7 linked regions of the Homo sapiens genome follow. The protein of the gene in region 7 interacts with the protein of the main gene of each other region in a biochemical or structural test. Each region holds a gene or a part of one and is shown on either strand. Other genes may lie near its edges. The genes, in order: ATP2A2, KCNJ12, XKR7, KCNB1, DOCK4, RSBN1 and MAGI2.

Region 1 (3,264 bases), on a different chromosome or scaffold from region 7:
TGTTTGGACAATTTGGTGGTTACAGTCACAGGGCAACTGCTGGCTCTGCTCACAGGCACTGCAGACGTGGTATGCTCTGGCCCTGGACAGTGGCTAGATGCTTGGTAGACACTGAGCTAATCTTGTGGTCTCAGGTCTTAGGTCTGCCCACCTCAGTCAGGGCTGAAGCTCCAGTCCGAGGGGATGTGGGAGCAGCTGTTGTGAGGGAAGTCGGCCAGATGCCCTGCTTGCCTGGGAGCTCACTGAGCTCAAGGGACAGCTTCCTCCAGAATGGATCATCTGCATTCTGCAGAGTGGTGTCCCAGTTAGGGTATGTATGATTGTTGGTCTTCTGGGCAAAGCTCAGAGAGGCCAAGGGAGGCACGGGGTGGCAACAAGCGACACTGATGGCTGGGCCTTCAGCCACCTGCCCATCAGGAAAGAATGTGGAAGTAAGTTTCAGGCAAGAGCTGCCTGACAGCAGGCACATTGCGGGGCTGGGCAGCTGCTGCCTCACTGTTAGGTGAGGGCCTGAGGCCAGGGATGTGCCAAGACCACGGTGCTGGACCTGGTCTTTATGGGTTGACCTGAGGAGGAGATGCTGAAGTGTTTTCACCCAGCAAAGCCTTCAGTGAAATGGAGCAAGTGGCCCTGCTCAAAACAGCAGTGGGCCTAACCCACTCCCAGCTGTCTGGACCAAGGGAAGTGGGTCCCTCCATGGGCTCCTCTGTGGGCTGGAGGGGTCTGAAGCTGAGAAACCATGAAGCTAACTAGGGGCTGTGCGACAGCAGGCCACACACTACTCAACTTTTTTTGTAAAGGCCACTAAGTCAAGGAACTGAGTCAGGAAAAGCTGAGTTTTGTTTGCACGGAATAGCAATAGTGCAGCACTCAAGTCAGTTTGCAGCCCAGAGATGCACTCCTTGCATTTGGCCCATTCAACCCATTTCTTGTTACACCTCATGATGCTCAAACTGGCAAAATTTACCCCCTGCCCCAAATGTTCCCTGCTGGGCAAAGCAGCCTCCCTTCCCGAGAGCCACAGCTGCCTGCGAGCAGCCTTGGAGGCTTCACAGTAAGGCTGATTTTTTTTTGACAGGGCCTCACTCTGTTGCCCAGGCTGGTTTGAGTACCTGGGCTCAAGCAATCCTTCTGCTGTGGCCTCCAAAGGGCTGAGACTTACTTACAGGCATGAGCCACCACACCCAACCACGGACTGTGCTTTTAAGAGTCGGTCTCCAGGTTCCACCTCCATCCCTTGAACGTGGGCCCTCTGAACTCAGCAGCACCTTGTCCTGCTTGATGCCTCCTAACCCTCCCCAAACTCCAACCATCTGCATTACATCTACTGGCCATCCCAGTAACCAGAGCCTAAGTACATTTTGAAGAATATAGTCGAGGCCTCACACCCTGGCTAAGGAGTAAGCTGGTTTTTGGGCTGTGCAGAGCCACGTCCTACTAACTGTGCTTTAACATCCCCTGCAGAGCTAAGTCTTAGCCACCAAGGACAAGACCAAGCAAGGGGGGGTGGGGGAGTGGGGAAGTGGCCTATTTAAGACGAACCTATCGATACCCAGAGTTCACTGGTTCAGTTACTTGCTTTCACTAGTTTTTAGCTTTTTAATAAATAAGTAGCAATGTTCTGGGATGACTCCTGGCAGCTGCGAACCCTCATTTTAGCAATAGTCTGCACAGCTCCTTCAGCCTGTTGGTCTGGCTGAAATGCCTCTCTCCCCACTCCGGCTTTTGTCTGGCTTGGGCCCTCCTGGTCATCTTGTCCTAGGCAGCCTGTGGAGGTCTATGAAAGCCACACCTCCAGCCAGCTGATGCTGCGCCCGAGTCACATGGCAGGCGCCACAGGCAACCCCGGTGCTCACAGGGCATCAGGGAGCACAGCAGCATCTGCCATGGAGGCGGCTTATAAGTTAGTGACATACAGTTATCTCACTTGGTGGCAGTCACCTTTAGGCTAAAGCATCCAAATCCCAGGAAGAAAATACTCACGTTAGTTGATGGATGTTGGAAGGCATTGGAGGAAAACACCACAGTTAGGACTGTTAATGACTTACACACTGTTGGTGAGACTCATCTCGAACATGCGCAAACATTGATCGTAGTAACGGTGGTGGTGGTTAGTGCCACATTCAAATAAAAATAGTTCTATACAATATGTTCATTTGGTCATGTGCTATTTACAGATTTTACAAAACACACACATACACACACATACACACTTGCCCTTATGTTCTCTATACCAGGCCAGCAGAAACTTGCATAAAATGTACATCACAGATGACAATTAGTGCCTGTACATTAAGAATACAATTCCTATGACTACCTACACAGCAGAGCAGGAGCCTTCTTCCCCTCAAGCAGAGTACAACTAAAGTTCTGAGCTAAGAACTGGAGAGAAAGTTGGACATGTCTGTTAGTCCCAGGTAAGCCACTTACGAGTTAAAGACAAGACAGTTATTTTTCTCTGTCCATTTAAAATGTTTTATTTTTTTAAAACTAGATGACGTGCCACTGAAATAGGCAATGTTGGCAAAACAATGTCTGTTACAATAAAATACATTAGACATTTAAATAAATAACCTTAAAAACTATGTGAAGGGACATAAACCCAGTCGATTGAATCTGGAACAATGTTTTCTGCACAAGCGAGTACAGGCATACCTCTCGTTAAAACTGATGTAAACAGAACGAACCATCACAATCCTAAAGAAGAAGCCAAGCGGGGCGGGGGTAAGGTGGGGAGAGGTGGGGTGGGGTGGGGTGAACGGAGGCCAAAGTGGGTGAGGGAAGTAGCAAACCAAAACAATACTGACTGAGGTAGCAAGACTCTGCTCAGTGCAGAAAAATTGGCTTATGAATAAAAATTAGACTGTGATATCAAATTAAATCCGGATCATCATGCAAAAGACACAATACATGCTATTTAGTTTTAGAAAAAAAACCACACACATTCATTTCCTAAAATCTGCTGCCAATTAATTTGCTGACAATGTCTGCTGGCTCAACTATTTTTTTTATACAAGGATGAGTATTAAACAGAACACTGTACATGCTTTTTCATCTACAAAAAAATATTTGCATAAAATAGTGTTAGTTCTCTGTACATGTCAATGGACACTTTAATTATGTGTATAAAAAAGGAAAATCTTGCCCCACTGGAGTCAGAAAAAGCAAAACAAAATCTAGAGTATGAAACCTCCATCACCAGCCAGTATGTTCATGTGAAAATTCAGCAGAAATAGACAGTTGCTTTAAACAATAAAAAAATTA
Region 2 (4,591 bases), on a different chromosome or scaffold from region 7:
CCCCAGCCCTGAATGGAAGCCTGGCTTGGCCCGGAACCAGGAGCCCCGAGGCAGAGGGTCGGGGCGGGGTTGGCTCGGCTGCTGCCACACAGAACGCCAGCTGCTGGCAGCGATTTATTTTTGCTTTAAGTGCTGGAGAATTGCAGGCCTGGAGCCGCCAGCTCGGGCCCGGCTGCAGCTGGAGCAAGCGGGGCGGGCAGGGGCAAGGGCACACCTCCGGCCACCAGGCCACTCCATCCCCCTTGACCTCTCCTGCCCCCGGCCTTTCATCCTCTCTATCATACACATCTCAGTCTCCACATGCTCCCTTCTCCCCGGCCCCTCCCCTGCCAAGTCCCCAAAAGCTGCCTGGAAGCATCAGGGACAGAGGGTCTGTGGCCTCAAGGCTGCGCCCCAGCCTTCCTCCGGGAACTGTGTGACCTCCGGCTGTGGGGACCCTCTCTGGCCTCAGGCTGCCCGCTCCCACAGTGGAGGTGTCACGTCGCACCCTCCTGTACACCCTTGGGGTGGAGGCAGGGAGGGCTGAGAAGTATCCCTGCTGCCAGTCCTCATGTTACCTGGTTTCCTTTTCTGCCCCCACTCCCCAGGTGAGCCCCAGGAGACAATCTCCCATCCTGGCACACCTGGCTGCACACCTGGCCAACCGGGCACACCTGGCTGAGGCCCAGGACCAGAACCTATCTGCTCCCCACAAAAGGGGCCACCAGCCCTGTCTTTTCTGAGGCAACATGGACATCCAGGGGAGGAGGGACGGGCAGTGCTCAGGCAAGCAGAAAGCATGCCAGTCTCTATAGTTGCAGAGGTGATCACTGCTGGCCACTAAAGCCGCTGGAGTTGATCATTGCAAATCATAAACATTTTTAAACATTTTATAACGTGGGTGTCATGTTCCAAAAAAAAGACTGGAAAGGAGAGGTGAAATGCATTGACATGAAACTCAATGACCGTGGGGAGTCTGGAATGCTTAACTGGGCAAGAAACAGAGACACTGTCCCCTCCCTGCCAGCCCCATCCCCTCAGCCGCCCTCCAAACATGTATGCTGAAGGCAGGAGAAAGGATTCAGCCATCAGCTGAGATATGAGAGGCCCCACGCCCCAGGCCTCAGTTTGCTGGGATCTGCAATGGGAACGGCTTGTGATCCTCAGAAGGAATCAGATGGGGACATCCTGAGCTGAAGCAGGCCAAGTGCTAGAGGACACAACAGGGCTTGGAGCTTGAAGCAGTGAGGGTACAGATATAAAGCACTCCACCCAGAGTAGGGGCCTGAAGGAAGCCCCAACTCCCTCCCACTCAGCCAGACAGACAGATGGCAGGCCAAAGGCTCAGAGAAAAGGTCAGAATCCAGCTCTGTCCACCAACAAGCGCCACAGTTCTTGGACAGTGACCTCTCTGAGGCTCAGTTTTCTCATCTGCAGAATGGGCTGACAATGCTGGCTACCATTGCTACCAAGCACTCACTGCATGTCAGGCACCAGGCCTGGCTGAAGCAGCCCATTCACTCTCTGTGTTTACTGGGCGCCTGCCATCTCCTGCCTACCGCTTAGGCACTGGGGACACAGCTGTGGTAGAATAGGTCCAAAAAGAGGAGATCCTATTCCAAGGGAAAGATAGACAGTAAACAAGATCAGCAAATAAAATATATTGTGGCAGATAGCATTAAGTTCTACAGAGAAAAATAAAGCAGGAAAAGGAACATGGGGGAAAGGGAGGCTGCAGTGTCCCACAGGGGAATCAGGGGAGGTCCTGGAGAGAGGGTGGCATCTGGGCAAGACATGAAAGCGGTAAGGGAGGGGCCGTGCAGAGATCTGGGAAAGAACATTCCAGGCAGAGATAGCAGCATGTGCAAAGGCCCTGAGGTAGGAGTGGGCCTGATCTGTTGGAAGCACAGCAAGGCAAGCAGGAGCGTGGCCCCGGGGAGGGAGCAAGAGTCCTGGAAGTGAGGCCAGACTGTGCAGGGCCCTGAGGGTCCCAGGGAGGAGTGTGGTGGGAATCGACAGAGGGCCCTGACACCCAGAGTGCACCAGGCACATAGAAAGTGCTCAAGGAACAATGGCCCAGAGTGGCTCTGGTAGAAGCCTCCACTCCATAAGCTTTATTGTTTGTTCCCTGGCCCCTCTCCAAGCCTGAGTCCTTCAAAGAGGCCTGGGCTGCAGGTGAGGGCAGGAGAGGGAGGCTTTGGCTGCCCAAGCAGGAGGGAGGGCTCAGTCCAGGTGGGCAGGGGGAGTCAGGCAGGATCCAGGAGGCTGTGCCCACTGACCCTAGGACAGCATTAATGCACAGCCAAGGCGGAACTGCTCCCTGGGGCAGCTGAGAAAGGGGTTCCCACTCCTATCTGGCCAAGCAAATGGAACCATGTCCAATGATGCATGGCTGAAGGCTAATTAGAGGGCTGGGCGGGGGTCCCCAAGGTCTCCACAGCCTCATGCTGCCACTTCAGCAGCCAGGCAGGAAGGAGTGAGCTGTGGAGCACCAGTGGTGGTGATTGGGGTTAGGGGACACTGAGGACACACCAGGAAACAGGAGGCCTGCACTGGGGCCCACTGCCATCTGGGGCCCACTGCCATCTGGGGCCCACTGCCATCTGGGGCCCACTGCCATCTGGGGCCCACTGCTACAGCAACTCGCTGCCCTGCCCTGGGCCTGCTTCCCTACATGTCCAAGGGAAGGTTGGATGGGGAAATGACGAGTTCCCCAGGCTCTGGCTCCACAAATGCTCACACCCCCTCCTTCCCAGATCCCCCTCTCCACACGTCCATTTCTACTGAGACCAGCCCCTCCCCACCCCCAACTCCCAGAGGCACGCTCCAAGTCTCACATTCCTACTGCCCCATCCTGAGCACTCTCCGGAGCCAGTCCCACTTCACAGATGATGAACTGAGGCCAGGAAGAGTGACCCCATCTTGGTGGCAACATCTGCCTCTCTTGCCCCCCTGAGTCTGTCCAAGAGTCTCCTCTGAGATAGTGAGATCCCTGAGGGCAGGGGCTGGGTCTCCCCGTATGCAATGCCCATTGATTAAGCACTTCTGTATGGCTACCCAGCACAGGGGCCACAGCTAGGCAACAGGGCCTGGGGTCTCCAGCCCCAGAACTCAGCCCCCACAGCTCTCACCAGCACAGCAAGGCCTCTGTGGCTGGAAGAAGCAGTCCAGACATGGAATCATCGAGCATTTACTGGGCACCTACTCTGTGCCAGGGCTTAACTAGGTCCTAGGAATACAGCTCCCGGGAGCTGGGATGGCATGCAGGCCTCAGGCCCTGTGTGGGACCTGCCTGGTGGTAAGGCAGGGAGAAAGCTAGCCTGGCAGTCAAATGCCCCTGAGGGGTGTGTCTGTGGAATGGGGGAAGGTGCAGTTCTGTCCCTGGGAAAGCACCAGGGCTCTGGGTCTGAGCCCCACAGGCTGGTGCCTCCAGTGCCTCCCTGGGCCTCCAATCCCTGTCTGCACAATAGAGCTAATGCCACCCTCTGCACTGGCAGGCCATTAGGAAATTAAGTCAGCTGACCCAGGGCTGGGTCCTTGGCCAGTGCCCAGCGGGGGCTCTGGTCCTGCCCCGAGCCCAGCACCTCAGAAAACCCACCTGCCTCTGCCAGGCCCCCCCCCACCCCCAACCCCATGGTGCCTCTGAAGCTCTGGCCAACCTGCACACGGCCCAGTTTCAGGCCAGCTCTCTTTCATCTTCAGCCTTTCCCTGCTGCCGTGTCCCCATCACGCTGCCAGTTCCCGGCACAGCCATCCCGTGGGGCTGAGCCCCCACCCACCGCACCTTCCATGTGGCCAGCCAAGCCTCCACCCCTCCTGCTGCCCGCAAGCTGCCCCCTCCCTGACTCTCCTCCACGCTAGCCGGTGGCAGGGCTCCAAGGGCAGGCCCGGGGAGGGGCAGGTGTACCCATGTGTCGCTCACAGTAAAGCCCTGGCCAGGGCCCAGCCACAGGCACCAGCTGCACCTGTTGGAGGAAGGGCCCAGCCCAGAGCTGGGCCTGGGAGCAGGGGGGGTGAGGGTGGCCACTGGGTGGGCACCGTGTGTACCAGTAGCCTTCTGCCTGGGGACCTGGCGAGGGCCACAGAGGTTGATGACAGTAATGATGCACTCACTTCCGCCCCAGCCATATGCCAAGGCCTCCGGGTGCCACGCTTGGTACTGCCAACTGTGGCCCAGGGTACCGGAGGCCTGGCTAGGCAGAGAAAACTGCCCATAGGCAGAACCGGCCCCAGTGCTGCAGAGCTGCAGGTGCTGCTGCTGCTGTTACTCCTGTTATCACTGCTGTCATTATTATTTTGCTGTTGCAGGGCCACTCAGTGTTACTTTGTCCTGCTTCAAGGAGACCCAGGGATGGGGACACCATGGCCCTGGGGCAGGAAGGCTGGTGGGGTAAGCGCCTGGCCTGGAAAGAGCTAGGTGAAGGCATCTGTCCAAACCCAACCCACTGCATGGTTTTAGGCAATACCCCTCCACCACTTCCCAGGCACCTCTTCCTTCCAGCACAGTTGAGGCACATTCCTGGAGGGGTCCCCTCCGGGGCAGCCTGGAAACCTTATGGGGTTTTGACGGGGTAGCTGCAGGGGGAGTGTCCAGAGATGGACTGACAGCTCA
Region 3 (3,459 bases), on a different chromosome or scaffold from region 7:
CCTTCTCCTCCAGAGAAGGGAAGGGTGGCAGAAGCTAAGCACAAGGGGGTAACCTCTCTGTCCCCTGGGGAGTTTTCTGTCTCCAGAAACCAGGCCAGGCCTGGACAGGGCCTTCCTTTTCCACTTCCACATCTCCCACTCTAGAGTTTTTCCTCCCCATACCTCTACCGGCAGCAGCCAAGGACCCAGAAATGTCCTATCCTCTCCCCAACCAGAATGGCACATTGAAGCTCCTTTCCTCCCCAGCCCCAGGTCTCAGAAGCCTCTATGGTTGGGAAGGGGGCTCAAACCCCAACCCTACTACTGCCCATGCGGCTTGACACCCACTTGTTCCCTTCCATTGAGACACTGCAAAGCACTTTAATATAGAAACTACAGCTCCCCCTACCAACCTCTACTGCAGGCCCCACCACAGCTTGAACTGGGAGGGAGACAGGTGCCAAAGGTGGCAGGGGCCAGCACAGAATGGGACTCTTGGGTCCTGGCTTTCAGTCCACATCCTGCACCTGGACTCCCCTGCAACCCAATGTAGATTCCTCCTAACCAGGGGCCCCCAAGCTGGAGAAGACTCCAGCAGCCTCTAACCCCATGAGGCACTGGAGGGGCCTGTAGCCCTTATCAGATGATTCCCAAACCAGGGACCCTGTGGACCCCCCAGATTTCCCTTTTCAGCTGAGAGGGCAGTGGGCTCAGTTCTCAGATAGCCAGGTGATGGGGATTTAGGGTTGGACTAGCAAAGTCTCAGAGGGAGCCACAGCCTCTGTCCCTGACTTCCGCTGAGGGGTTTCCACTTGGCAGGACACTCCAGAACCTTCTCAACATTTTGAACCGTAAGTCTCAAACTGGTGGCACGTGGGCCAAATATGAGTGGCCAGCAGTTTCCCAAACATTTGAATTTTAGTACCTACAGGCAGGGCACACACTCACTCTCCTGTCTGCCAGAGTCCCCAACACTCCCTATTGTCTCCATTACTCTTAGTTTCATTATCTCGAGGCATTTGAGTTTGCATCCCATGCAGCCTTCGTCCCAGAAAACCTTCTCCCTATTGTCTGAGGCTTCTGTGGACTCCAGGTCCAGATTAATTCCAAGGGAAGAACCTGCAGAACTCGAGTACTTAGGAGGGTGTTGACTGCAAGCGAGACCTTCCCTGGATATTCCCAGCTCCCTCAGCCCTTATCCAGAGGCCTGGACTTTCCCCAGGCCTCACCTTCCCTGCCCTCTGTCTTTCCCGACTCTCATGGGTGACATGCCTCTGTGGGACACAGGTGTAGCAGGGAGCTGGCTGGGGGTAAGGCAGATTTGGGGGAGACACAAGAATGAGGCAGATGACAGGAGGGGATCAAGCAAGGCTCCCTCATTGGGGAGCCCTGTGTGGGGGAGTGGGGAGGTCTGTGCTGTTCAGCTGGGGTGACAGTTACAAGGCACATGGCACATCAGTGCCAGGAGGCGCCGTGATGTGGGTGTGTGTGGTGCCTGCAGAGGTTTGGGGAACACAGTCAACAGCGTGGGGGTCAGTTCTAAGAAAACAGGTAGACAGAAGTCTGCCCTGGAGATGGGGACACTGGTCTCCTGGGGTTAGAGGTAACTGAGGGCAGGGCCTGCCATATTTGGTACCCAAAGCATCCTGTTCTCTTCTGTTCCTGGCAAAATTAAGACACACCCAACTACCTCTCATCCCCAGGGAAATCCTAACTGCCACTGACTTCCTGTGTGGCCTTTGGTGAGTCCTTGGTCCTCTCTGGGTCTCACTTTCTCCTGTCTAATGGATGTGGAGGGCAGGTGGCTTAAGGAACCCTCAGGGACCCTCTGGGCTGCAAGGACCCTGGCAGGGTGGGAAGGACAGGGAAGGACTGAACATCCAGACTGGGGTGGGGGTCAGGGGACAGGAGGCAGAGGACCAGGGGGGTCAGTTCTGCTAGGGGAGAGACTGGCTGAGGTAGATTGTGTCACAGAAAGAAAAACAAAACAGCTCCAAGGGGATGGACCCCTCCCTCATCTGACTCCTCTATCCCAGTGAAATGAAGGGACAAGCCAGTGGAGCAGGGGGCCTCAGGCCTGGTCCCGAGCTCCTGGGTGGAGAGTCCTTTAAGGGCTGAGACTCTTCTGAGGGTGAGAAGCAGGAGGAGGTGCCTGCAGCCCTCTCCCTGGGCCCTTTGACTGTGGCCATTCCTGTGCCCAGATGTCCCTGCAGGCAGAAGCCCTGAGGGAAGGGTGTGTGGGGTTGAGAAGAGGTGGGGAGTGGGGGTGGAGTAAAATCCAAAAATGTAGCCATGGCTTCCCTGCGAGCCTCAGACCATGCCAAGCCCTGCCAGCACATCCCTGCCCCTTGGGAGTCTCCTGGAGTGTAAAGGACCCCAGCTAGGACTTTTCCTCTAGAAGGCAGCAGCCAGATGGGCCATTCTGGGATACTGGGGAGGAGAATAACTTGCCAAGGGTGACCCTCATGCTACATCTCTGGGCCTCAGTTTCCTCGTCTGTAAGATGGGTTGATAATACCTCTCTTGCAGGGACGTCGTGACCAGAGGAGAGTGTAAGTGAAACGACATGGGGTGAAAATTCCTGGCACAAAGTTGGCCCTGGAGAAACAGTCTGTTTCTGGGTCTGGGTCCGCATCTTCAGAGCTCCCATCTCACAACGGCTTTGTGTGTGAATTCAGCCTCCAAAGATGGATTTGGAGGATGGATGAACCCAACAGAGTGGGCCTGGGTCAGCCTTGGGCTTCTCCCACCTCCCGTCACCCTCGAGGCCTCGTTCCTGAGGGTGCTTAGCAGCAGAAAGAAGGAAAAGCACTCTTGCTGTGTTGGCAGGAGGGATGATGCGTACACCATCTCGGCCTGTGTGCTGGTGGGGAGGGTGACCCGTATCATGGTTGTGCTTGTGCTTGTGTGTATGTGGGCAGTCTGGCCCTCCCTGCCTTTGGGGTTACCCTGCATCCCCAGCAATTCATCATTACCCATCACCTTTTGATGGGCAGCCCAGAGTCTGGGACCTTGAGAGAGTGGCTGCCACTCTGGGCCTCAGTTTCCCATCTGTAACCCAAGAGAGGCTGAACCAGGGAGGGCTAAGCATCCCTCTAATTTGCATAGTCTAGGATTCTCATGGCCCACCTCACTCCAGGATCAGGTTGGCATCTGTCCTTAACATCCGCTGCTGTCCTCTCCCACCAATCACACCTAAGTTGCTGTGGGAGTGTGTGTGTGGGGGGGTGGGGGGTGGGTTGGGTTCCCAGCTCTGCTAGAGGCTCTGTCTCCTCACCCCATGGAACTGCCTACTTCCCCTCTCCCATACGCCCCCTCAATCCAGCACTGGCTGTCCTAGGTGGGAGGAGGGGCCCTGGGTGAGTCCCCTGGGCACTCCAGGATGTTCAGGCCATGGGAATAGACCACAGGTCCTGGGGAGTCATCAGATCTAAGGCAAAACAAGTCAGTTTCCCAGATGCCGCTCCAGGGAGCCCCATT
Region 4 (4,591 bases), on a different chromosome or scaffold from region 7:
TGGCCCTCAGAATAGAAATCCTGGCTGCCAATGATCAAACACCTACTGTGTATGGAGTGTAACAACGCAGCTCTGTTATTATCCCACCTTTCGCAAACAGTGAGGCTGAAAGAGGTTAAGTAACTTGCCTAAGGTCACACCACAGGCAGTCAGGAGTAGCCAGAAATCCAAACCGAGTGTTCTTTCTATAATGATCAAGTGCCGCAGCCTCCTCCCCAGTCTCCCGGCTTCCACTTTTGCCCCTGCAATCCATTCCCCACATAGCAGCCAAAGTGAGCTTTTCAAAATGTAAATTGGATCACATTATTCATCTGCTTAAAATCCTCCAGAAGTTTCCCATCACACTCAAAATAAAATTCAGACTTTTCATCCTGGCATACAAGGCCCAGGCAGAATCTGGCCCCCATGACCTCTCTGGGCTCATCTCTTTTGATCTCCTCTGGTTCACTTGGCTCCAGCCCCACTGGCCTTGCTGTTCCATAAACAGGCCAGAGTTTATCTGACCTCAGGACCCTTGCACTTGCTGTTTCCGCTGCCTGGAATGCTCTTCCCCAGATTCCCCCTTGGCCAGCCCCTTCTCCCCCTTCCTCATTTGAGCAGGTCCCTGCTCACATGTCCCCTCCTCATACAGACCTTCCTTGACCGCTGTTCTAAACAGTTTCCCTCCCCTCACTCTCTGTTGCATCATGCAATGCCTTTCCTGCAGAGGCCTTAAACGCCATCTGAAATTATATTTCCTTCTTTGTGTGTCTCTGTTTCACACCCACAAGAATGTGAGTACCATGAGTTGATTCACTGCTTGATTCCCAGCACCCATGATGGTGCCTGGCACTGAGGAGCATGTGGAATGAATAAATGAATGAATGAACGAATGAATGAATGAACGAATGAATGAATCAAGCAAGCAAGCAAGCAGTCAGTCACTGTGTCTCAGGGTTTGGGGACCTGTCACCCCTTCTCACTGCCCACCTGCAACCCAGGTCCCTGTGCCTCTGGCCTCCTTTGAGTCATCTGCACCTTGCCCATCCCATCCCCACCCATCCCCCCAGCTTGGATGCCTTGCTTGTCAAAACAAGCAAAGCCTGTGGAAATTGCTTAGAACTCACAGAGTGACAGGACCAAATGGAGGATCATTTCTAGGTGATTGTAAGATACAAAAGTGGCCATATCTCATATGCTGAAGAGCAAGGATGGATCTGGTTCTGTGCCACTCCCCACTTCCATAGCTTTTAGCTAATTTCTCCAACTTTCCAAGTCCCAACCTTCCACCTGTAAAATGGAGATAAAAGGCTCACCTTACAGGGTCTTCATTAAATCACATTTGTCAAAATTTTGCTCAAAGCCTAGCACATAGCAGGTGGGGATTGTTGTTATAAATGCTAAGGAAAAGAGTCTTTTTTCTAGGGCTGGGTGGGCCGAGTTGCTGCAAACCCTTTCCTTCTGAGAGCAGCAGGGCCAGGGAGACTGAGCTGACACTGTTAATAATTGATGGGATGTTCTGGCAACTCGGAGACAAACCAAAGCACAGGCCCTAGGCTTTGCCATCAGGGGAGCGAAAATCAAAACCCATTAGGCAAAAGGCAGTGTGATTGATTCTTGTTTAGAAGATGGGGACAGCCCCATTGGTGTGACAGGGTTGCGGTGCTGGGGCTACCACGGGGCTTTGGCTTTCTCGGAAAACTCGACAGGCTTTTCTCAGTAGGAGAGACAGGGAACTGATTTGCCAGCCCAGGAGTGTCTGTGATCCCTGGGATAGTCTCAGGATTAAAGCCCTGAGATAACTTCCTAATTTCCAGGGTAGCTTATGTTTGTTGTGCCCAGCACTGATTAGTGGTGCTTCATATCTGCTATCTCATTGAAATTCCTCCAACAGGGATACAACCAGGTAGTATGCCAGTTAGGGATGCTTTGGGCTGCAAGCAGCAGAATAGAAAACTCAAAGTAGCTTCAATAAGGAGGAAGATGCATCATTGAATATAATATGAAGTTCCAAGGCAGTTGGTTTTAGGTTGAGTTAATGGCTCAATGATGCCACCAGGATTCTAGATTCTTTTCATCTCTCTGCTCCTCTGCTCCCCAACCCCTGCAAGTGGCTTGGTCCTCATGCTTGATGCTTCATATCACAAGATGGCTGCCCAGTTCCAGCCCTCAGACGTACATTCAGTGATGTTTAATCCGTGAAGAGAAACATTTTCTCCTATGCTCCACTTTCTTTCTTTTGTTTTTGAAATGGAGTCTTGCTCTGTCGCCCAGGCTGGAGTGCAGTGGCATGATCTCGGCAGCTCACTGCAACCTCCGCCTCCTGGGTTCAAGCAATTCTCCTGCCTCAGCCTCCTGCCGAGTAGCTGGGATTACAGGCATGTACCACAATGCCTAGGTAATTTTGGGGTTTTTAGTAGAGACAGAGTTTCACCATGTTGGCCAGGCTGGTCTCAAATGTCTGACCTTAAGTGATCTGCCCGCCTTGGCCTCCCATAGTGATGGGATTACAGGTGTGAGCCACAGCGCCTGGCCCACTTTCTTTTTTTTTCTGAGAGGAAACCCTTTCCCAGGAGCACCCTAGCAGACTTCTTTTAAAATCCCATTGGCCAGGACAGGTCACATGCTCATGCTCTAGCTCTGAGGGAACCTGAGAAAGCAAGTGTCTGGCATTTTCAGATGAGAGAGGGAATGGATCTGATAAGTGGTATGAAGACTCTTTTACAGAACAGGAAATGGAGGCTCTGAGAGGCGAAGTCACTTGCCTGAGCCCACACAGCTAGGTTCTCAGTAAATATTTATCAAAGGAATGAAAATTGCAGAGCCAAGGTTTGAACCCAAGTTTGTCTGGTTCCCAAGCCTATGTTTCTAAATCCTGGGACCTTGGGTGGATCATTTTAGCTCTCAGGTCCAGTGAATTCATCTGCCTGATGGTGATAATAGTCATAGCTCCCTTTCAGGGCTCTTTTGATGATTCAATGAGATTTCAGATGTGAATGTAATTTGTAAATGGAAAGTACTTTATAAGTATGAAGTATTATTGTATTCAAAAGTGGGAGTGGCCTTTATTTATTTATTTTTAATTTTTTAACTTTTTTCAGAGACAGGGTCTTGCTCTGTCACCCAGGCTGGAGTGCAGTGGTGCAATCAGAGCTCACTGTAACCTCAAACTCCTGGGCTCAAGTGATCCTCCTGCCTCAGCCTCCTGAGTAGCTGGGACTACAGGTGCACACCATCACTCCTGGCTACATTAGAAATTTTTTTTTGTGGAGACAGGGTTTTGCTACATTGTGCTGGCTGGTCTCGAACTCCTGGGTTCAAGTGATCCTCCCATCTAAGCTTCTCAAAGCACTGGGATTAAAGGTGACAGCCATCATGCCCAGCTTAGAGTGGCCTTTCTTTAGGAACAGTGGTCAATATTTTTCCCATCACAGACTTGATTAAGAATCAGCTCTGGAGTCCAACAGATGCGGTTGATTTCTTGTCTCCATTGCTTACCATGAATATGACCTTGGGCAAGCCCCTTTCCTTCTCTGAGTGTCACTTTCCTTATCTAGGAAATGAGAATTATAACAGAGGCAACCATGAAGAGCTGTTAGGAGATGCCCCTAATGTAAAGAGCCTAGCCCAGCGCCTGACTCATGGGAAGCATTCAGTAAGTGGCAGCAACGATTGTTAGTGTTTTCACGGAATTCCTCTGCTCCAGCTACACGTCTCTAGTGTAATGAGGTTCCAGCTTCCTTGACCTGAGCCACAAGGATCTGTGTATTATCATCAAAAGAAATGCGGGAACCAACTCAGAATCTATGGGGCCCCTTCAGTGTGATGAGTCATCGACTTAGGCTCTTGCTGGCCCCAGCTTGGTCAAACCAGATGCCTGTTTTTATCCTGGCAGATAATATGCCAGCAATTCTGAATCCTGATTGTGGGGTCACACAGACCTGGCTTCGAATCGCAGCCCAGCCTTGTCCTAGCTGTGGACTTTGGCCAATTTGCTTCACCTCTCATCACTTCCATTTCCTAATCTGTAAGTGAGGGCGATAATAAAACCTACTCCACAGGGTTGTCTGAAGGATGAAGGATGATAGCACATGATCAGAGTTGAAGCTGTGCCTGAGAAATCCCACATCCCCACAGGATAAAGAAACCCAGAGACCCAGGATGCTCCAGTGACCTGCTGAGGATCACACAGCCCATCATAGCCTTTCAAATCCCCTGAGAGACCAGCTGCTAAGAGATGATCCTGGTCAAACATCCTGGAGTAACAGAAAGATCCCTGAGCCTCAGCGGGTACGGGTGGCGGGGCCAGAAAGGCCTGGGCATGGCCCCTGATCTTTCACCGACTTGCTGTGTGAATGTGAAATGCTAGGAAGAAAAAGAGATGGTCAAATGAATGGGTTGGCCAAAGCTTAACTAACTAGAAGAGAACAAGCATGCGTTAGGCACCAACTCCATACCCAGCACTTTGTGTACTTCCTGTACTTGATAATGTCATCAGGATGGGAAGCACTTGACCTTAGCACTGGATTGCCCAAGTTCAGAGTTTGGCTTCTCTACTCACTAACCATGTGATTTGGGGTCAACTATTGCAGCCCTCTGTGCCCTGGTTCCT
Region 5 (4,591 bases), about 34 Mb from region 7:
AAAAGGATCATGATTACCATACATTCCTCAGGGTACTGCATATCAGTTTTACTGCAGTTACGTTACCAAAGGCATTCCACTTTTTTGATGATTTTTATTTACTTAGTAGTTACCCAATGTCATCTTGGCACAATTTTTTTTAAATGCCAGAGAGTCCAAGAGTTGTTCCTGAAGTAAGTTTAAGTTGCTTAAATGAAGCTAGGCTTGGGGAACTTTAATTCCTTATTTTTTTGTCTTATATACTCTAGCCAAATAAGCATATAGTTCACTTTTTTAATAAAACAAGTTATACAAGTTGCCTTGTCTTTCTAATAATGATCAGCAACATAAAAAAAGGTACAAAAGAATAGTGAGTGGTAAACCTACAACTGGCAAAGTACCTCAGTAAACCATTATCTTTACTCTTCTGTTATAGTGACCAGAGAGTGTTGTCAAAGGACATGATACAGAAGAGTCTAATATTGGTCATTATGTAATCCTTGTCAAAAAGGTCCTGGTAGGAAGACATACAAGTACTAAAAGAGAAAACTTACGCAATGCATGTGATGGCTTTAAATATTTGTTCCATCTTTAATAAGAAATACTACAGAAGACAGACTTTGACTTAGACTGAAGGAAAAAAGGATAATTAAATTCTTTGTTAAAATAAACCCACATATCTGACTATCAAAGACAATAACCACCACCACCATCAACTCCTTGCCAATGTCATGAAAGGAACTTCACAGAAACCCAGTAAGATGTGAGTTGCAGTCCTTCTGGTATCACAAATGTAGCATTTAAAGCAGTGTTTTTCAAACTGTGGGTCAGGACCCATTAACAAGTCAATTTAGTGACAAGTATTTTTTTTAACAAAAAAGAATAGAACATTACATAGAGTATAAGCAAGTGCTGTTTTAATTATATGTGTGTGGGGTGGTACTGGGGGATATTTATATATATACTAGGTCAGGAAATTAACTATATTTCTTATGGGTAATAGTCAAACAAGATTAAAAGCTACTAATCTAGAGTAAGTCACTTAAACTCTATGAAACTGTTTTCTCATCTCTTAAATAGAAATTACCATTCAACTTCAAAGGGTAGACTCAGATAAAATAATTTCACTTTTTAAGTAAAACATTGTATTACTGTGTTACGGTTACAGCCTTTTAGAAGGGTTTCATTAGAGTTTAATGTTCCTCTGATGTATATATTCACAGCATGAAGTCACTGTGATAGAAACATAGACATATTGTATCAAACATAACTCAGAAAATGTTGTCTCCTTTTGGAAAAGAATAGAGCTAGAGATAGGAAATCCTAAATTTCTTGAAATTTGTATAATCTCCCTCGTACTAGCTACCATAACAGCCTCTAAAATAAAAAAAAAAAAACAAAAAAAAACAAGATCATAGAGGAAGAGCAGCATCTCTATGTGGCTTCAGGGGCCTTGTGAAGAACTGTCACTTAGGGGAATGACCAAAAGAGGGGAACATTTTTATAGACCATTCCCATAGGAGGCCAGATCAAGAACATAAGCTGCTATCCCACTGTCTGTATGGCCCTTCGGTGGTATTTTACTGGGAGGTATAAATCATTTCTCTTCTATTCCCACTTAAAGTTTAGAATCCTGTGTCAGGCTCTAAATGTCACAAACAATTCCAAGCAGAACATTATTATTTAGCTTTACATGCTATGTAGATACATCATAGGACCACTAATAGAAAACACTTTAAGAAACTGTTAGCTAAGAAACTACAAAAAACTAAGAGTAAAGGAAACACATCCTTATTACGCTCTATCACACACATACGCTATGATTAAAGCATCTTTCTAAGGAGAAAGACACCTAACTATCCTGTATGAATACGAGAAGGTGCATCTTCTTCCACCAACATAGAAGGGGCTTTAAAAAGGAACATGATTCCTACCCAGATGAGTTCAAAAACTCCTTCAAGAAAAATAGAATACAGGAATTTATGTGATGACTGAGTGATACTCGCACCACACAATTTATTTTTTAAATGACACTGTGACTTCAGATCAGCTTGTTCTGAGTTTTGTTTCTTATAAGGTTCATGGATTTTCTGCACCGATCAATCCAGCCCGTGTTCTCCTGTCAAGCTTAACTAAGCTCACACATGTAAAACATCTGGCTAGGTTTGAGGGGTGCAGCCTTCAGCTCAGGAAGATGCCATGACTCATCTGTGAATCTGTGCATAAAAGCCTGTTGGACAAATGAACGCAAAAACAATCTGCAAAGGTCTTAGCTTTCTCCATGAATAATTCCCACCACTTTAAGGCGGGGTGGGGAGGGGGGAGGAATGGGGGGGTGTGCTAACAGATGAGGACATGCAGGAGGTAGAGGTAATCTGAGGAAATTGGTGAGTATGCGATCAAGAATGCTTTAGTCACCATTCTGTGCGATAGATCACTAAAGCATGTTCCCCCTGTCTCACCAAAACTTTGTACACTTTGATCATCATCTCCACTTTCCCCAACCACCCTCTTCCCCCAGACTCTGGCAACCATCACTTTAATCTCTATATTTATGAAGTAAACTTCTTTAGATTGCACATGTAAGCAAGATCATGCAGTACTTATCTTTCTGTGCCAGACTTACACTTACTTCATTTACTATAATACCCTCCACATTACTGAAAATGACAGGATTTTCCCCTTTTTCAAGACTATATAATATTCCATTGTGTATAGATACTACATTCTCTTTACCCATTCATCTGATGATGGACACTTAGGTTGCTTTCATATCTCAGACATTTTGAGAACTGCTTCAATGAACATGGGATAGCAGATATTTCTTCAGCATACTGATTTCAATTCCTGTGAATATATACCAAGCAGTGGAATTGTTGGATCATATGGTAATTCTATTTTTAGTTCATTGAAGGTCCTCCATGCTGTTTTACATAACAGCTGTATTAATTTACATTCCCACTAACATGTGCACAGCGTTCCCTTTTCTCTGCACTCTCACCAATACTTGTTACCTTTCATTGTTTTTATACAGCCATTCTAACAGATGGGAGGTGATATCCACAGAATGGAGATACAATAAATAACAATGCATTGTATACTTCAAAAGTGCTAGAATGGATTTTAAATGTTTTTTACACCACAAAAATGGTAATTATATGAGGTGTAATTTGTTAATAGCCTGATTAATCACTCCAACTGTAAACGTACATCAAAATATCACACTGTACACCATAAATATATACAGCTGGGTGAGAAGGTGCATGTCAGTAATCCCAGTTACTCAGGAGGCTGAGGTGGGAGTATTGCTTGAGGCGATCAACCAGGAGCTTGAGGCTACAGGCTATAGTGCACTATGATGGCGCCTATGAATAGCCACTGCACTCCAGCCTGGGCAACAGAGCAAAACCCTGTCTCTAAATTAAAAAAAAAAAAATGAAAACTTAAAAAATATATTATTATTATTTGTCAAGGAAAATACATTTAAAAAACAAACAAAATGCTTCAGTCACTGCCCATGGAGCTCCTACTAGCCAGAGAGAATCAAACAAATTGAGAAAGAGAGGAACCAGCACCTCAGTTCTGGCAGCTTGCCAGGTAGCGTTTGCTTACCTCTGATCTTACTTAAAAACCAAGTGAGATATGTCACAACAAAAGTGTCTCTGTCATAGCAGTCTCAACACAATGAAGATGTTTTTCTAACCAAAGAACACAGTTAGTTGGAAGAGCTCTACAAAATTAGTACCAGGGAAGGCTTTAGTTAACACTTGCCCCAGACGCTGGGACCCAGAAAGGCTAAGTGATTTACCTAAGGTTACACAGCTGGCAGCAGTGTCTAGCCCAGAATCAAGAGCTAACTAGAATCTCCTAAGGTGAAATTGCCTATCACTGTGCCTCTTAACATGATTTCTAAAAGACAAGGTTCCCTGTTCCTCAGAACTATAACTTCATCACTATACCTTTTCCTAAAATCAGAACACTTATGACTGACTTTTCGTTGTTTTAATGAATTTAATCATTCATTAAATGGGACGGTGCCTATACATCAGTTACGAAAAAGAATTTCCATCTCCGATACATTTAATTACAGATATAAAATTTAACTAATTTTACCCATGTTTACAGTATGCTGCTTAAAATTTAATCATAAGTATATAAAAGCATAATTATCTCATACATAAATGAGGGTATATAAAAAGTACCTTTGCAGAAATATATAATTTATACTAAAACGTCACATATTCTGTTACAAAGACTGATTTATTTCAAAGAATGAAGAAACTAAATTACCACTACACTTGGTAACAAAGATCTGTGCCCATAAGATCTTTTCTTTAACATCTGTAAGAACTACATGAGAAAAACACAAACATTAACCAAGGTTAAAAGAAAAAACAAACAACTTGCAATATAAGCAGCTATAAACAGTGCCCTCCATGGTGAAAAATAAAGTCCACACATAAGTATCCTAGCAAAAATTTCACTACACACACACACACACACACACACACACACACACACACACGCCTAACAGATGGATTCTAAAAAACAGCTAAGCATTCCACAATCCAAATGCTCAAAAATTAATAATAAAGGTTAATTAACATTCTGG
Region 6 (4,591 bases), on a different chromosome or scaffold from region 7:
GGAACTGGAAAGTGATGCTAATGATGGCCTTTGTGAACAGGTACAAACTGGCTCCAGCACACCAGTATCATGTTTTCAAAATACTGTTTACATTGAAAACCTGGGAAAAAATTACACTAATAAAGAGTTGGTGAGGGCCAACTCTTTTTTAATTAAAATTAAAAAAAACAACAGGCCAGGCACGGTGGCTCACGCCTGTAATCCCAGCACTTTGGGAGGCCGAGGCGGGTGGATCACGAGGTCAGGAGATCGAGACCATCCTGGCTAACACGTTGAAACCCCATCTCTACTAAAAATAAAAAAAAAAATTAGCCGGGCATCATAGCGGGAGGCTGTAGTCCCAGCTACTTGGGAGGCTGAAGCAGGAGAATGGTGTGAACCCGGGAGGAGGGGCTTGCAGTGAGCCGAGATCGCACCACCGCACTCCAGCCTGGGTGACAGAGCAAGACTCTGTCTCAAAAACAACAACAACAACAACAAAAAACAACTAGCCAGGCATGGTGGCAGGCACCTGTAGTCCCAGATACTTGGTGGGGCTGAGGTGGGAGGATCACTTGAGCCTGGGAGATGGGCTACAGTGAGCCCTGATCATGCCACTGCACTCCAGCCTAGGTGACAGAGTAAGACCCTGTCTCAAAGAAAAAACAAAAACAAAAACCAAGAATTGGTTAAATAAATCTTGATACAACCATACAGTAAAAATTCCCAAGTTTTAAAGTAAACATCACACAAAGAATGGATTTTGTAAAAAGATTATTTATGGCTATATATAATTTGAAAGGTTAATATGCCTAAATGGTGGCTACCTTTTTTTTTTTTTTGGAGATGAAGTCTTGCTCTTGTCCCCCAGGCTTGAGTGGAGTGGCACAATCTCGGCTCACTGCAACCTTCGCCTCCCAGGTTCAAGCAATTCTCCTGCCTCAGCCTCCCGAGTAGCTGGGATAACAGGCGGCTGCCACCATGCCCAGCTAATTTTTGTATTTTTAGTAGAGATGGGGTTTCACCATGTTGACCAGGATGGTCTCGAACTCCTGACCTCAGGTGATCCGCCTGCCTTGGCCTCCCAAAGTGCTGGGATTACAGGTGTGAGCCACCATGCCCAGCCTGCCTTCTTTCTACTCTTCTTTTTTTTTTTCTTTTTGAGATGAGTCTTACTCTGTCGTCCAGGCTGGAGTGCAGAAGCACCATCTCAGCTCACTGCGACCTCGGCCTCCTGAGTTCAAGCGATTCTCATGCCTCAACCACCTCAGTAACTAGGATTACAGGAGCGTGCCACCACACTAATTTTTGTATTTTTACTAGAGACAGGGTTTTGTCATGTTGCCCAGGCTGGTCTTGAACTCCTGGACTCAAGCAATCTGCCTGCCTCAGCCTCCCAAAGTTCTGGGATTACAGGTGTGAGCCACTGCACCTGCCCTCTTTTTACTCTTTCCTATTACTTTTTTCTTAAGTTTATAAAAATCAGGAAACAAATGATGGTCATTTTTTGAGGAAAGATTACAGAACAAAAAATGTATATAGTATTTAACAATTTAATAAGATTTCAAGATTCGTCATCATCCTGCAACAAAAACTGCTATAATCTAGCAATGTGCAGAACTTTCAAATGACTCCTGGGTTTTTACCATGCCACCACCCTGCATCGTACATAATGTTTTCAAAGTATTTTCATACATTTCAAGTACCTAAGATTATTCCATACTTAGCTCAAGTATCATTCTCCTATGAGCCTTAAGTTAAGGTTTAGATTAGTCCATTAAAACTCACTTCTGGGCACTTATTTTGAATTGCTATTTTCGTAGTCTAAGCAGGTATAGATCATTTTCAGTCTCATTAAATTAGATTTTTCAAAGTACTAGAGAGTGAGTTAATCTACATTTGTCTTCAAAGTCTGAAACACAAAACATGTTAGCACAATATGAATTACTGAGGCTCGGTCCTATAGAACATTATTGGTTTCATGTAGCAAATACTGGTTACCTAGTATATGTCATGAGGACAAAGATGAATAAAATAGTCCCTGTCTTCCCAAAGCACACCTCAAATGTTAGTAGAAAATAAAAACATGTAAACAAAACTTTAATGAACAGAACATTGTAGGGAACAATTAATTACCTAAGGAAGGAAAGAAAAACTTCACAAAGGAGGTGACGTCCAAGTTAAGTTTTGTTTGGTTTTGGTTTGGGTTTGAGTCAGGATCTTGTCGTGGAGTCCTGGGCTCAACTGATCCTCCTACTTCAGCCTACCAGGTAGCTAGGACTAAAGGCATATGCCACTGTGCCCAGCTCAAGCTAAGTTTTGAAAATGTATTAAGTTTGCTGTGGGACGGTAACCCCAGCACTTTGGGAGGCTGAGGCAGGAGGATCATTTGAGGCCAGGAGTTCAAAGCCAACCTGGGCAATATGGTGAGACCCCATCTCTACAAAAATAAAATACACAAAACAATTTTTTTAATCAGATGGGCATGGTGGTACACACCTATAGCCACAGTTACTTGGGAGGCTCTCCTGAGACCAGAAGTTCAAGAATACAGTGAGCTATGATTGTACCACTGCACTCTAGCTCTGGGCAACAGAGTGAGACCCTATCTCAAAAAAAAAAAAAAAAAAAAAATAGTGCAAAAGCAAAGAGTTATGATAGACTATGGTTTGGAAAGTGAATTCGGTATGGCCGGAGAAGACTAAACACAGATACATCTAGAAGAGGTACAGTTGACCTGATTATTAATGTAAACCACACTAAGGGGTTTGATCTTTTATCCTGCAGGCAGTTAGGGCACAGGTTTTTAAAAAATAAGTAAAAATTAAATTTGTGTTTTAGAAAAATGCCTCACTGTGATAACTGTGATGATTGGACTGAAAAGAGGAACCGACAACTAAAACATTTACTTAAGGGAGCCCAAGACAAATGGTTTTCAAACTGTGCTCATTTTTATAAGCAACCAACTAAAAAAAAGTAGTTTTGCTTATTTGAGAAAAAGAAATATTTACCGTCGTCTTTTGAAGGGTGACTTTGGCATATCTGCTGTAGGGATCATCTGTTCTCCTGGCCTTACCCACATTATAGGCCCATCATCACTCTGGGACCTACACTGGAGTCGGAGGCTAGAAAGTGTACCCCAGGGCAAAGTCATCTAGAAATCAGACGGATTAGTCACATTAAAAAATTGTTTCAATGATTTATAAGTTAATCCTCCCACCCAAATAAAAGTTCTAAGAAGGCTTTTTTACAACTGTATATAAAGAAATAAATGCTATTTACATAGTAATTTATATTAAAAAGAATAATTGAATTTAAGTACTTTGTACTAATATTATTCTATCTAAACATTTCTGTGCAAAACACTGGATAAATTTAATTTCAATAGGCAATATTAGCTAAATACTCTTCAACATATAAAGTGCCCACTTAAGTAAAGATCAAAACTTTAATAATCTTAATTAACACTCACTTTCAGAAATGGTGATTCTTCTAACATATCAAGGAACTCTGGGAAATAATCACCAACTTCTTCATCTACTGCTCCAACGAGACTTATCTGCCGCATAGGACCTGCTCGGTAGGTGCCACAGCAGTATGTCCTGTTGACCTAAGATAAAACAAAAGAGGGAAAAATGGACTGAGGTACAACTATAATATAATTAAAGAATTAAAATAGGTTATTGTTTCCAACGTTGCCATTTCTTCTACAAACTAAGAACTGAATGGTCAATACCTTGAATAAAGTCAGAGAGGCACCCAAGCACACTGACAAATACACTAATACATATGCCACAAGCAAATTTCAATGTGTGATTTAACCTGAAGATCTCAAAGAAACATTGAAGACATTAATATCTATTTAATACTTAAACTTCTCTAAAAATGATTTTTTTAACTTTGTAATATTTTAGAGTGTGATCTTTATTTAAGAAAAAAACATATAAAAGTAAAATCATCAGGGCAGGGAGAAAAAAAGACCATAGTCATATTAATCTTCCATGTTCATTTTGTACTCCCTAGCTTCAAAGTCTTCACTTTAGCCCAGATACCAGGATACGAGGCTCACTGTTACCAAGACAGGCCAATCTTTTTTTTTTTTTTTTCCTTTTTTTTGAGATGGAGTTTCACTCTTTGTCCCACAGGCTGGAGTGCAATGGCATGATCTCAGCTCACTGCAACCTCCACCTCCCAATTCAAGCAATTCTCCTCCCTCAGCCTCCCAAGTAGCTGGAATTACAGGTGTGCGCCACCATGCCTGGCTAATTTTTGTATTTTTTTAGTAGAGATGGGGTTTCAACACGTTGGCCAGGCTGGTCTTGAACTCCTGACCTCAAGTGATCCACCCGCCTTGGCCTCCCAAAGTTTTAGGAGTACAGGTGTGAGCCACCAAGCCTGGCCCCAATCTTTTTCTCTACTCAACTTATGACAAACTTATTTCTACCTCCAGTGATTTTTCTCTTGAATCTGCCCAATCTGGAATGTCCTCTTTTCTGTCAACCCAAATCGTATCCATCTTTCAAAGAGCAGTTCAAAAGCTCTTTTTTTCCAGAAGTCTTTCTGGTCACACTCCATGATCTCTCCCTTCTCTGAAGTCTAATGTTACCTATGA
Region 7 (4,591 bases):
GATAGTCAATCTGATAATCGAGAGGGCTGCTGAGTAACCAGTGGGCAGGTAGCATCTACAGTGTGGATAAAGGGCTGTTTCACCTTCTGGGAAGGACAAAATTTCAGCACGATACTCACAACGCTGCACAATTTAAAATTTATAATTGTTTATTTCTGAAAAATTTTATGTAATATTTTTGGATTGCAGTTGACACAGGTATCTATAATAAAACCTCGGAAGGTAAAACCTCAGAGTTTCACCTGAAGAGCTTCCTAAAACATAGCCTGGTGACCCCACTCCTAGAGTTTCTGATTCAGCAGTTTTGGGTGGGGCTAGAGAATCTACATTTCTACCAAGTTTCCAGGTGATGCTGATGCCAGGAACCGTGCTGAGAACCATTGCTCTGGCTTAAATTCTGTAAGAAAGAGGAATCTTTTCCTGCAAGGGTATTTCTCTATTTAGGCTTCTTTGCCTTGGGAGTACTGTGTATATCCAGCAGCGAGTCATTTAGATCCCTTGTGAAAATACATGGCCACTGTTTGTAACCGACAGAGACCAGCCCTGTAGTCCACCGTGGGTCTCTATCTCTCACAGGGCTCTGGCCATTTTGCACATGGTCTTCCTACTGTGTTTCACCTGCACTGGAAAGATTAATTTTGTTTTACTTAACTGCTTGTGAGCTGGCCTTATAGCAGGTTAAGAAAGTGTCCTTCTGGCTTATAGGGAAGCTGTAGAGCCAGGAAACCATGTGGAGGCCCATCTTCAAATCAGGGCTAGACGGGGTAAGAGGAGGCTGGTGCTAGATCACGGGGAGGGCTGCCAGTCTCTGGTGTCAGCCCTGCCTGGGTTTAAATTCCAACTTGGATGCTTCCCAGCTGTCAAAGGATTGTGGTAGTGGGGAGAAACAAAGACATGATGTGCATGCCTTCTGCTTTTGGACTGTGGATAATCCTCTGACTTGGAAATGCGTATCATAGAAATGCAGACTTGGTGGTAGAAATAACAGATTCAGCCATCAGGGAAAATTGGTTGGTGAGGCTCTGCACAAGAACCTGAGGTTCCGGAACCCCAAAGCCACAGCTTTTCTTTATTAACTTAAAGAGGCAGGAGGGAGGGCAAGAATAAATTCTAGATTTTATTCATACACCGACACACACACACACACAAACACACAGAGAGAGTAAAGAGACTAATATTTTATATTGTTAACAAGCTTTGTTTTATACCCTTAAATGAAGAATCAGTTACCCATCAATCAGATGCCTCAAAGTAATTATTAAATGAAAAAATCTACTCTTAACTTTAATTGGAAAATTTCTAGCTGCTGTCTTTTTTTTTTTTTTTTCTTGAGACAGATTCTCACTCTGTTGCCCAGGCTGGAGTGCAGTGGCACGATCTTGGCTCACTGCAACCTCCGCCTCCCTGGGCTCAAGCGATTCTCCTGCCTCAGCCTCCTGAGTAGCTAGGACTACAGGCGCCCGCCACCACGCCTGGCTAATTTTTTTGTATTTTTAGTAGAGATGGGGTTTCACAGTGTTAGCCAGGTTGTTCTCCATCTCTTGACCTTGTGATCCTCCCGCCTCAGCCTCCCAAAGTGCTAGGATTACCGGTGTGAGCCACCACGCCCGGCCCCTGCTGTCATTTTTAAGAACAACCTGTATCCAAGAAGCCAAATCCCTTTTACTCCTAATGCTTCTGTCTGCCCAGTATCAAACCAAAAGACCAGTCAACACAAAGGAAAAATTTCCTAAAAGTCCCGCAAAACCATGTGATTAATCAATATGGGGGAAAAAGCACAAAACTAAAAATAAATTTCAAAAGATTCAACCTTAATCAAAACAGAATCATCAAACCATAGAAAGAATTATGGAGAAATAATGTTTCCTTTTCAAGCTATTTCTTAGATTTCTTTCATTTGCTCTTTAGAAAAATAGTACTTTACTGAGGTTAATCAATTAGAAGGTCATAAGCAGAAAAATGAGAATGAGAGATATTATAAAATAGCAAGTGGCCAGACTTTTAAGAAACTGGGTCATCATCAACTAGAAAGAGGGCAAACCTACAGCAACCCCGCTTGACAGCATGCTTCAGTACTCTTCCAATACCACAGTCGGTTTTTCTTTCAGAATTAAGCAATTCTATAAAAAGAGACTGTTCTTACCCTCATCCTCCCATTCCTTATTGCTGGTCCATCTTCTGCCAGTCTCAACACATACAAATCCATTTTGTATTCCCTTCCTCCACGAATGCTGAATCCAAATCCTTTGGCTCCTTTCTCCATGTCCACAGTGAAATAATCAAAATCCTTTGGGGTTGGGGAGAAAATGGAATAAATAATTATTTAGTTATCAGAGAAGCTTCTGTGGCTAGTCTCTGTGTTCTCCTTCTGTCTCTTAGTTAATGTATTCCAAATGACATGATGTTGGGAGAAGTCGTAATCTGGCTTCATAAACTACCCAAATGAAAGACAAAATTCCAAAGGTTTGAGCAGGCCAGAGCACAGTTTACTTGGTCATCAAAGAATTACTGTGTAGCTTGTTTACTTTGGTATTCATCAGTTTACTTGGCAAACGTGGAATGATTACAGATAGGCCTGAGTGACATCATCTCTCCTTTTACTTCTCTCATTCACTGCTATTGAGCACCATAAATAAATGTCAGGTGTGTGTGTGTGTGTGTGTGTGTGTGTGTACAAATTACAGAGTTTGCTGATTAGAAAAGTAAAATTTAGTGGGATCTGATAATTAGATCTCTCAGTTGCACAGACTATTGAATATCAAGTTGGAATGTACAAAATCAATTTCTCTTTTACCTAAAATGCAGTATGTCCAAGATTCTCTGATCTTCACTATTCTTAAAATCTTTGGGCATAAAGTTGATCTTCAATTCATAATAAAACACAATGTAATCTGATAGAGTTGAGATTGTACTTAATTTATATCTTGGTATGTAGTTACGAAGTAGGAAATATTTTCTAGATACCAAACTCTGGTCTAGACTCTTTTCATAAATGTTGAATCCTCATCCTGGCCTGTAAGGAAGACTCTCCCTTTAGGAAACTGAATCTCAGAGAAGTTAAGGAAGTTGACATGAAGCACATCAACAAATAATCATAACAACAGTGACACTGGTTGTGTAGACAGAGAGTTGTTGGCTGTGGCAGGCGCTACACTCTGGATTGTGAAGCCAAGCCTGGTCTTATTCTTACGCACAGGGGCTTGGCCCTTTATCACAGAGTGGCAGGTAGGGGGCCACGTAAAAAAATATGGACCTAAAATACCTCCACTGCTAGCATCTATAAAATTTTCTGCATTAGCAGCACTCTCAGAGGTCCCAGGTTAGAGCATTTTTAAAACTTTGACAAGGAAACGTACAAGGAGTTAGCTAGTATTAGCAGGGATTAGTTTATTCCATTACTACTCATCCGCTATTTATTTATGTATTTATCCATATTTATTTATTGTCCTGCTTTATTCTGAAATAGATTTATTTATCCAGCATGTTTCTGAGGATGCAGGTGTTACCCCGATGTTACCAGAACTAGGAATAGAACTTCAGCTCTCCATCCCAGACAGGTACTCTTTCCTCTGCCTCTCCTATTTCATTCCTTGCAGTTCTCTGGAAGCCTTGGTCAGGACCCACCCTGCTCTCCGGGAGGAGGTACCTGGGGTTGTCTGTAGTCCGACAGAGGGTACTGCCTGGTGTCGGGGGAGTGCTGCCTGTAGTCCAGTAGGGGAGGCTGCCTGTAGTCCAAGGGTGGGGGCTGCTGGTAGTCCCCTCCTGGGGGTTGCCTGTAATCCAGCGGGGGCTGCCTGTAGTCTGTGAATGGAGGCTGTCGGATGTCTGGTTTCACATCTTGCCTTGCTTTCACTTCCGACCTGTAACTAAATCAATGGAAATGGGATTTGCTTTTGTAACTCTGCATTCTAAAGAGGCTAGAGTGATCACACGGCCTCCAGAGGTGGGCCAGCCATGACAGCTCACACAAACCACTCCTCTCGGTGGTCCTGTTGGATGCTCAGGATTATGAGAAGGTTAAATATTATTTAAAAATCTCTGACAAATGCCATATTGTATGCTTTTTATTTGGCTCCTTACGAAGTCAAGGTAAAAATGATGGTTCAACCAGAACCTTGTGAAAAAGCACTCATGGATGTTCCTCTTTGACTTTGGCTATTTAAAAACTGTACAGCCACAGCAAATCAAGGGATTGAAGCACTGAACTATACAAACCAAGACATCAGCCTATCTTAAGACTGGTAAACCAACCTTCCTCTCTCACTCTTACTTTTTTCTCTCACACACACCCCTTGGCAGATCATTCATTACTTCATAAAAACATGATTGAAGTGATCTCTAAATACATTACAAATACACAATCAAAGGCTATTTTAACCTGCTGAGTTGGGTCTTTTTGAATATTTTACAGAGGTTAAAGGAGTGATGGTAAAATATAATCACCAACTACAAACCAAGTGGCAAGTCATTGGACCATTGGTAAAATTGGAAACATATTACACAGAGGTAATACTAGATCATAGCTATCAAGATTAGCATCAAATACTACTGTGGTCATAAGATGGAAGAGAAGGCAAAAATGTTTATGTCC

The links.
Region 1: the proteins of MAGI2 (region 7) and ATP2A2 interact in a test that uses a peptide from one of them, tested with the Homo sapiens proteins (one large-scale study listed by IntAct).
Region 2: the proteins of MAGI2 (region 7) and KCNJ12 interact in a test that uses a peptide from one of them, tested with the Homo sapiens proteins (one large-scale study listed by IntAct).
Region 3: the proteins of MAGI2 (region 7) and XKR7 interact in a test that uses a peptide from one of them, tested with the Homo sapiens proteins (one large-scale study listed by IntAct).
Region 4: the proteins of MAGI2 (region 7) and KCNB1 interact in a test that uses a peptide from one of them, tested with the Homo sapiens proteins (one large-scale study listed by IntAct).
Region 5: the proteins of MAGI2 (region 7) and DOCK4 interact in a test that uses a peptide from one of them, tested with the Homo sapiens proteins (one large-scale study listed by IntAct).
Region 6: the proteins of MAGI2 (region 7) and RSBN1 interact in a test that uses a peptide from one of them, tested with the Homo sapiens proteins (one large-scale study listed by IntAct).

Annotation. Positions count from the first base shown.
Region 1 is NC_000012.12:110,346,511-110,349,774, reverse strand, and holds part of ATP2A2 (sarcoplasmic/endoplasmic reticulum calcium ATPase 2), read right to left. Parts: 3' UTR 2,383-3,264; coding exon of another isoform or gene 2,363-2,382; 3' UTR 1-2,362.
Region 2 is NC_000017.11:21,378,804-21,383,394, reverse strand, and holds part of KCNJ12 (ATP-sensitive inward rectifier potassium channel 12), read right to left. Parts: intron 1-4,591. UniProt on the Homo sapiens protein: Inward rectifying potassium channel that probably participates in controlling the resting membrane potential in electrically excitable cells. Probably participates in establishing action potential waveform and excitability of neuronal and muscle tissues.
Region 3 is NC_000020.11:31,998,785-32,002,243, reverse strand, and holds part of XKR7 (XK-related protein 7), read right to left. Parts: 3' UTR 1-3,459.
Region 4 is NC_000020.11:49,475,405-49,479,995, reverse strand, and holds part of KCNB1 (potassium voltage-gated channel subfamily B member 1), read left to right. Parts: intron 1-4,591. UniProt on the Homo sapiens protein: Voltage-gated potassium channel that mediates transmembrane potassium transport in excitable membranes, primarily in the brain, but also in the pancreas and cardiovascular system.
Region 5 is NC_000007.14:112,199,363-112,203,953, forward strand, and holds part of DOCK4 (dedicator of cytokinesis protein 4), read right to left. Parts: intron 1-4,591. UniProt on the Homo sapiens protein: Functions as a guanine nucleotide exchange factor (GEF) that promotes the exchange of GDP to GTP, converting inactive GDP-bound small GTPases into their active GTP-bound form. Involved in regulation of adherens junction between cells.
Region 6 is NC_000001.11:113,774,220-113,778,810, forward strand, and holds part of RSBN1 (lysine-specific demethylase 9), read right to left. Parts: exon of another isoform or gene 3,601-4,591; intron 3,590-3,600; coding exon 3,452-3,589; intron 3,134-3,451; coding exon 2,991-3,133; intron 1-2,990. UniProt on the Homo sapiens protein: Histone demethylase that specifically demethylates dimethylated 'Lys-20' of histone H4 (H4K20me2), thereby modulating chromosome architecture.
Region 7 is NC_000007.14:78,123,551-78,128,141, forward strand, and holds part of MAGI2 (membrane-associated guanylate kinase, WW and PDZ domain-containing protein 2), read right to left. Parts: intron 3,867-4,591; coding exon 3,647-3,866; intron 2,288-3,646; coding exon 2,144-2,287; intron 1-2,143. UniProt on the Homo sapiens protein: Seems to act as a scaffold molecule at synaptic junctions by assembling neurotransmitter receptors and cell adhesion proteins. Plays a role in nerve growth factor (NGF)-induced recruitment of RAPGEF2 to late endosomes and neurite outgrowth.